Homo sapiens: one gene and its partner. The protein of the gene in region 1 interacts with the protein of each later gene in a pairwise test. Each region holds a gene or a part of one and is shown in the gene's direction. Other genes may lie near its edges. The genes, in order: PDE6G and L3MBTL3.

Region 1 (3,902 bases):
GTCACCCACAGGGAGGTGGTGAGGACTCCAGGCTCAGGACCTGCCACAGGTTGGGAGGCTAGGTTTGCTGTGGATTGTGGGCCGGGGCGAGGGAGGCCAGGACAGGGGGGAGTCCGGAGCTGTGTGTGGCCAGCGTTGCAGGGGGGCATCCACTAGGCAAGGGGAATGGGAGCGTGCGGGTGGACCCAAGCAAAGCTGGCAGGCTGGTTACCCCAGGGCGGATTGCAGGGGCTGCTGTCTGGATGACGCTGGAGCTGGCGGGGCTGGGTCTCAGCCCCTCCACCGGTGGGTTGAGACCCCCACAAGGGTTGGAAGCAGGAGGGCTGACTGGGACCCGGGCCTGGTCTGCCCCCAGACCGCAGCAGGAGGGAGTCCAGGAGCCAAGGTTGCCGCGGTGTCTCCGTCAGCCTCACCATGAACCTGGAACCGCCCAAGGCTGAGTTCCGGTCAGCCACCAGGGTGGCCGGGGGACCTGTCACCCCCAGGAAAGGGCCCCCTAAATTTAAGCAGCGACAGACCAGGCAGTTCAAGAGCAAGCCCCCAAAGAAAGGCGTTCAAGGGTAAGCAGAGCTGGGGGATGGGGCCTCTGAAAGGGAGGAGGCGGTCCTGAGGCTGCACAGGAAGGGGAGGGCGGGGCAGAGCCTGGGGCCACTTCACTGGGTGAGTGGTCCCAGCCTCACAGCTGGGGAAGGTAGGGCGGTGCCTGAGGGCCTGAGCAGGGATGGAGGAGGGGGAAGGGGAATTGGGGGCTCCTGTCACCCGCTCCAGATGCTACTGCCAACCATGCTTGAAAATACAGCCACTGCCGGCCAGGCGCGGTGGCTCAGCGCTTTGGGAGGCTGAGGTGGGCAGATCACCTGAGGTCGCGCCCGGCCTAAAAAAAAGTTTTAATACCTGCCAAAGTAGCCCCCTAGGATCGCGAGTTTGAGACCAGCCTGACAAACATGGAGAAACCTGTCTCTACTAAAAATACAAATTTAGCCAGGCGTGGTGGTGCACGCCTGTAATCCCAGCTACTCAGGAGGCTGAGGCAGGAGAATCGCTTGAATCCAGGAGGCAGAGGTTGTGGTGAGCTGAGATCGCGCCATTGCACTCCAGGCTGGGCAACAAGAAGAACAAAACTCCGTCTCAAAAAAACAAAACGGCCGGGGGCGGTGGCTCATGCCTGTAATCCCAGCACTTTGGGAGGCCGAGGCGGGCGGATCACGAGGTCAGGAGATCGAGACCATTCTGGCTAAGAAGGTGAAACCCTGTCTCTACTAAAAAATACAAAAAATTAGCCGGGCGTGGTGGCGGGCGCCTGTAGTCCCAGCTACTCGGGAGGCTGAGGCAGGAGAATGGTGTGAACCCGGGAGGCAGAGCTTGCGGTGAGCCGAGATCACGCCACTGCACTCCAGCCTGGGCGACAGAGTGAGACTCCGTCTCAAATAAATAAAAAAAATACAACCACTGCCACCCAGGGACAGCCATGGCACAATGCACCGAGGAGTGTCCACTCACACATGCGCACACACGGGCATCTCGCTCCCATCAGTGCACCGAGGAGTGTCCACTCACTCGTGTGCGCACACAGGCACCGCGCTCCCATCAACGCACCGAGGAGTGTCCACTCACACGTGTGCGCACACACGGGCATGACACTCTTATGCACAAACACGCTCACACCTCCACATATGCACGTGAGGCACACTCACAGACAAGCCACCTTCACAAATCTACACTCAGACCATGCACCAACCACGCACCCCCCCGTACTCCCCCAGGGCACGCACCTGCCCAGCATCCTGGGACTTGCACCTCCTTTTCTAGGCCTCAGCCCCATGATGCTCTGGGCAGCAGACTCACCCTGGGTCTGTGAGGGAAGCCTCCTCAGATGCGCCAAGCCCTGGGAGGTTGGGGAGGAGGCGGGTCTCTGCCCACTGGGCTCCCAGCCAAACACCTCATCTCCTAGGAAGGCTAGAGATGACCTCGGGCCTCAGGCTGACTGAGCCAGGACTGGGCCCGGCCATGTCCCTGAGTGCTCTGTCCTTGCAGGTTTGGGGACGACATCCCTGGAATGGAAGGCCTGGGAACAGGTATGACGGCTGCCAGTACCAACCCGAGGTCTGCCCAGGTCCCCCCAGGCACACCCAGCACGCCCGGGGCCCATTGCAGCCCACCTCGGCCCCCACCTCCCCTGCTTTTCACTTAGGGACCCCCAGCCTGTCCATCACTTCTTCCCCCAACACTGAGCTCCAGATCCACTGGATCTAGAGGGTGGGGCTGTCCCCATTTGGGACACTTGCACCAGGTGAGGGGAGGGGTTTGGGAAAGAACAGAACCCCTCGCTGCCTCCTCCCCCTTCAGCAAGCCCCACCCTCCTCTGGTTCCCTCCCCTGGACCTGCTGCACCCACCCTCCTTCCCCCACAGCCAGTGTGTCCCCAGAGGAGGGCCCCACTCCAGCGTCCGCACGTCCCCGCTCAGCACACTGTAGGGCTACACCTGGGCTGTGGGAAACAGGGCCACAGGGGATGGGGGGGTCCCTAGGCCGTGGGATCCTCTCTGATCCGTGGCCCGTTTCTCCCACAGACATCACAGTCATCTGCCCTTGGGAGGCCTTCAACCACCTGGAGCTGCACGAGCTGGCCCAATATGGCATCATCTAGCACGAGGCCCTGCTGAAGTCCAGACCCTCCCCCTCCTGCCCACTGTGCTCTAAACCCTGCTCAGGATTCCTGTTGAGGAGATGCCTCCCTAGCCCAGATGGCACCTGGACACCAGGATGGGACTGCAACCTCAGGTCTCCCCCTACATATTAATACCAGTCACCAGGAGCCCACCACCTCCCTCTAGGATGCCCCCTCAGGGGCTGGCCAGGCCCTGCTCAACATCTGGAGATACAGGCCCACCCCTCAGTCCTGCCCACAGAGAGGCTTGGTCGGTCTCCACTCCCAGGGAGAACGGGAAGTGGACCCCAGCCCGGGAGCCTGCTGGACCCCAGATCGTCCCCTCCTCCCAGCTGGAAAGCTAGGGCAGGTCTCCCCAGAGTGCTTCTGCACCCCAGCCCCCTGTCCTGCCTGTAAGGGGATACAGAGAAGCTCCCCGTCTCTGCATCCCTTCCCAGGGGGGTGCCCTTAGTTTGGACATGCTGGGTAGCAGGACTCCAGGGCGTGCACGGTGAGCAGATGAGGCCCCAAGCTCATCACACCAGGGGGCCATCCTTCTCAATACAGCCTGCCCTTGCAGTCCCTATTTCAAAATAAAATTAGTGTGTCCTTGCCTGTCTGTGGCATATTTGTGCATGGGACAGGGCCTGTGGTGGGGTCACTTGAGCCGGAGCACATGGGGGAAGGGGTGGGCAGTGGGGCAGGAGGGGCTGGCCTGCCTGAGTGGGAAGACAGCCCTTGGGCTCACACTCTCACTGAGCCTTGCTGGTGGCCCCAAGACACGCAATGTCAGGCCATGGCTGGGTCAAGGCAGAAGGCCTTGGTGCACACCCAGGGGCCATAGTCAATGAAGCATGCAGGTGGCTGGAACAGGCCACACAGAGAAGGTGAGACTGGACATGGCTTACACCACACGCCGTGAGGCCGGAGCTCCTACTCCCACCTCACAAGAGAGAAACTGAGGCACAGTGACACTAGCAACTCCCCCAGAGCACCCAGCCAGCTCGTCCTTAGACAGTGCCCACTAAAACTGGCTGTATCTGGGCACAGTGGCTCATGCCTATAATCTCAGCACTTTAGGAGGCCAAGGCGGGAGGATCACTGCAGTCCAGGAGTTCAAGACCAGCCTGGGCAACATAGCAAGACCCTGTCTGTATTTGAAAATAACAATAGGCTGGGTGCGGTGGCTCACGCCTATAATCCCAGCACTTTGGGAGGCTGAGGCAGGCAGATCACGAGGTCAGGAGATCGAGACC
Region 2 (3,818 bases), on another chromosome or scaffold:
ATGTTTATATCAAAGTTCAAGAATAACAGATATCGTCTTTTTCACTGTCTGCCTAAAGTATTCCCTAATTTTTTTTTGAGACGGAGTCTTGCTGTGTCGCCCAGGTTGCAGTGCAGTGGTGTGATATTGGCTCACTGCAGCCACTGCCTAGCAGGTTCAAGTGATTCTCCTACCTCAGCCTCCCGAATAGCTGGGATTACAGGTGCCTGCCACCATGCCTGGCTGATTTTTGTGTTTTTATTAGAGACAGAGCTTCACCATGTTGGCCAGGCTGGTCTCAAACTTCTGGCCTCAAGTGATCTGCCCACCTTGGCCTCCCAAAGTGCTGGGATTACAGGTGTAAGCCACCGTGCCCGGCCATATTTAGTAATATCTTATTCCCTTCTATTTCAATCATTACATTGATTTTTGTTTATGTCAAAAATTCAGGTTACTGGGTTGATATTTTTGGCCTGTCTCAGGGCTTTAATGCATTAGCCATCCCTTTGTTTTAAGTGAAAAAATAATGGCAGAGTGGTATTTTCAGATAGCTGAAGGATTCAACAAAATAGCATAGAAAAAGTGAGGGTGAAAAAGAAAATCTGTAAGCCTTTTCACGAATTGATCTCTTATATATGGTAAATTATTAGCTGGTTTTTTCATGCTGCTTTCTGGACTTTAATGAATGTAAAATAAAGCATATTCGCAGATAAAATAAGATGCTCAATTTCCTTTTTAAAGGAAATGTTAACTTCAATGAAATTGTAAAAATTAAGGGGAGGACATTTCCCTTATTGTAATTTGCCAGCATCCTTACTTCATAAACCTTAAATTGTCCTTCTTGAAGTGATAGGCCAAAAAGATTTTACCTGTTTCATTTCTATTATTTCCACCTTTCCACTTGTTCCTATAAGTTAGTCTTCCCAAAATAGACTAGGTGAGAGAAAAATAAAGAATTTTGACTATTGTAGTTCAGTATCTATACCGCTGAGGAATTCTACCTAAATACTGGTACAAATACCCTGATAATAAGTGTCCTGGGTATAATACATATTTGTTTCCTTATTCCTTTTCTTTATATCCATTACCATTCATTCAGAATTGGAAAATAATAATACAGTTTGTTGAAAATAAACATAGTCTAAATATGCATAGTTATGAATTATGAGTTAAATTTTGTTTATTTAAAAAGTCATTTGATTGATTTTGGCATGTTAGAGATAAAAGTGGGACTGGAAAACTAAGTGTAAAATATTGTGGTATTTGAATCAATCTGTTCATATGTGCTTACTCTAGGGTATAAAGAAGAAGAATTCAATTGGCAGACCTATCTTAAGACATGTAAAGCTCAAGCTGCTCCTAAGTCATTATTTGAAAATCAGAATATAGTAAGTACATACGAAACACGTTTTCTTTCAAAGGAAGAAGTTTTTTGAGTGTCTCATAGGATCAATTACAAGTGATAACAAGGAACTATAATAAATTTTATCGCCTTGGTAAATAGAGTACTCTTATCTTAATTAAAGTTTAAAATTAGCTTAAAATCTTCATGAACAAATATGTTTTATAGCCATATTATGGTTGTCTCTTTTATTGCATAGTAGAAGACAAGATAGTACAAGATTCAGGTGAGATTTACAATTAAGATGCATAAAAAATTAAATTGGCTGAGATATTTTATTGTTATTATCACTTATATGGGAGTGCTGTTCAAATGGGATTCACATAGCCAGATGAAGGTAGCCCTGTTTCAGTTTACATGTAGGAGGTCACTGGAGACTGTGACATATCTTCACTCTAGCTTATAGCTTTGTTTACAGTAAACAAAAACAAAATCTGGATGTGCGTGTCTTTTCTACTTGACCGGTATTCCTGCTTTCCATAACATGTTCCTCCATTGGCCGACTTGATCCATGACATTTTTCTTTTCCCAAGTTCTGATCTAATTGGAAAGAATAAAGGGCAAGCCAGTGGAAAACCAAAATGCCATCTTTACAGATGGTCAGAGCTGAGTTGGAGGACGTGCATGGCTTGTATCTGCAGACAAATAAGCTTGATTCTGAGCCCTAGAATGGAAGAGATTTAATTCGCCTTTCACGCCCATCCCCCAAGCCTGGAGAACACTAGACCCTTGAGGAGCAGAGTGGAAACTGTGCACCCTGCAGCCCAGCTTTCTCTCTAGTATGATCAGTTCCTCCTTTCCAGAGTCACCAGGCTGGTAGCAGTGAGTGAGACAGTGGGGAGAAGCAGTAATGTTTCACTAACAGCATTCCCTTCAAATGGAAATAAATAAATATCAAGAGCAGGAGAAACCTCCTCACTCCAAAAATCCTTCATTTGGGAAACAGTGTTAACCAGTTGGTTTGAGAGCATCAATCTAATGGCTGAAATGTTTTCTGATTTAATCAAACACAAACCAGGTTGGATTACAGAACTGACACATTGTGTTTGTGTGCATGCGTATGTGTGTTTAGGTTAGTAATAGTGTTAATGGGCCAGCTTATTATTTTAAAACATCTTAATTGAGAGGATAGTGTAATTGCCAAAGTGTAACAGTGCATTGTCAGTTGGTATTCTCTGTCAAAACTTATCCCAGGGAGGAAGGTCAGTTGGGTGGAAAACTTAGCAGCCTGCTGTCTCTGCTCCAAGTTTCCTAATCCCTGTCTGGTTCTCTGATGATGACTTCAGTCAGGGATTTGATTAACTGCCTTGAACGGTCTTCCTAAATTCTATGCATTGCCAGCATACAACTTAATCTTGGGCTCTCCATTTCGTATCTAAGAGACAATTAATTTTTCCATTTCTAGATTACCTCAGAATACTCAAACATTTATGATCAGAACTCGGATAAATTTCAGTACTTAAATGCATAGTAAAGATTTCTGTATAGCATTAGTGCCTGTTCTATCCATTCAGACACAACTTATTCTAACATTTTCAGATACACGGCTGTCTACATTTTTGCAATGATAGTTGTATAATTATAGTAAAATGAGAGATAGCATTTATTTTGCCTAAAGTAGTTAGAATAATATCTGTATAATTGAGTCTAACAGAGGTTTTTGTTTGTTTTTTGTTTTTTGTTTTGTTTTGTTTTGTTTTTAGGGAAGGAATGACTTGTAGTGTGTTGTGATTTGCATAATTGGTATCTAGATATACTAGTCTATAATATGTAGAGATAGATAGATTAAGATATTATTCCTCACAAAAGATTGTAAGAGATTTTATATATTACTGTACCTTAAGCACTAACTCTTACAGAACTTTCATTGTTTTTGTTCCATGTTCTGAATGACTGGTTATCTGTGGATTTCTTTAAGTTACCAACTATTTTGAATAGCTTTGTACATCAACAGCCAATTCTTTTGCTGCTATTAGGAATAAAATATATCTGTAGTGTTGAGTAAAAGTTGTAATAATTTGCAGCCTTTCATATATGAAGATGACCTACTTTCGAGAGTACTCTTTTGAGAGATATTTTCGGAAGTGGGAGTGAATTTGTACTGACTCATGCACATTTTTAACTTGATTAAGTGCATATTTTGTGTGAATAATTTTCATTGTTAAGTCTGTAATCAAGAAAAGAAGGATAAAATGTGAACTATATGGTGAATAAAACTTGCCTACCTATTACAGTTTTCTAATTAAGGCATCAAAACACATGTTAAAATTAATTATTTTAAATTCTGTGAGGTGATGGATATTTTCGTTTTGAGGCCCAGATAGCTAATTGGGTGTAACAGTAGGACCTTTTTTTTTTTTTTTTTTTTTTTTTTGCGGCTTGTTGGAAAGCGACCCTGCTGTGAAACTGGCATATGATTTTTAAATTATGTGAATAC

What was found.
Region 2: the proteins of PDE6G (region 1) and L3MBTL3 interact in binary tests that used the Homo sapiens proteins (3 or more experiments, as listed by UniProt).

The regions. Positions count from the first base shown.
Region 1 is NC_000017.11:81,649,818-81,653,719, reverse strand, and holds the end of PDE6G (retinal rod rhodopsin-sensitive cGMP 3',5'-cyclic phosphodiesterase subunit gamma), read left to right. Parts: exon of another isoform or gene 1-62; intron 63-355; 5' UTR 356-414; coding exon 415-560; intron 561-2,034; coding exon 2,035-2,075; intron 2,076-2,569; coding exon 2,570-2,646; 3' UTR 2,647-3,261; downstream 3,262-3,902.
Region 2 is NC_000006.12:130,067,055-130,070,872, forward strand, and holds part of L3MBTL3 (lethal(3)malignant brain tumor-like protein 3), read left to right. Parts: intron 1-1,275; coding exon 1,276-1,367; intron 1,368-3,818. UniProt on the Homo sapiens protein: Is a negative regulator of Notch target genes expression, required for RBPJ-mediated transcriptional repression. It recruits KDM1A to Notch-responsive elements and promotes KDM1A-mediated H3K4me demethylation.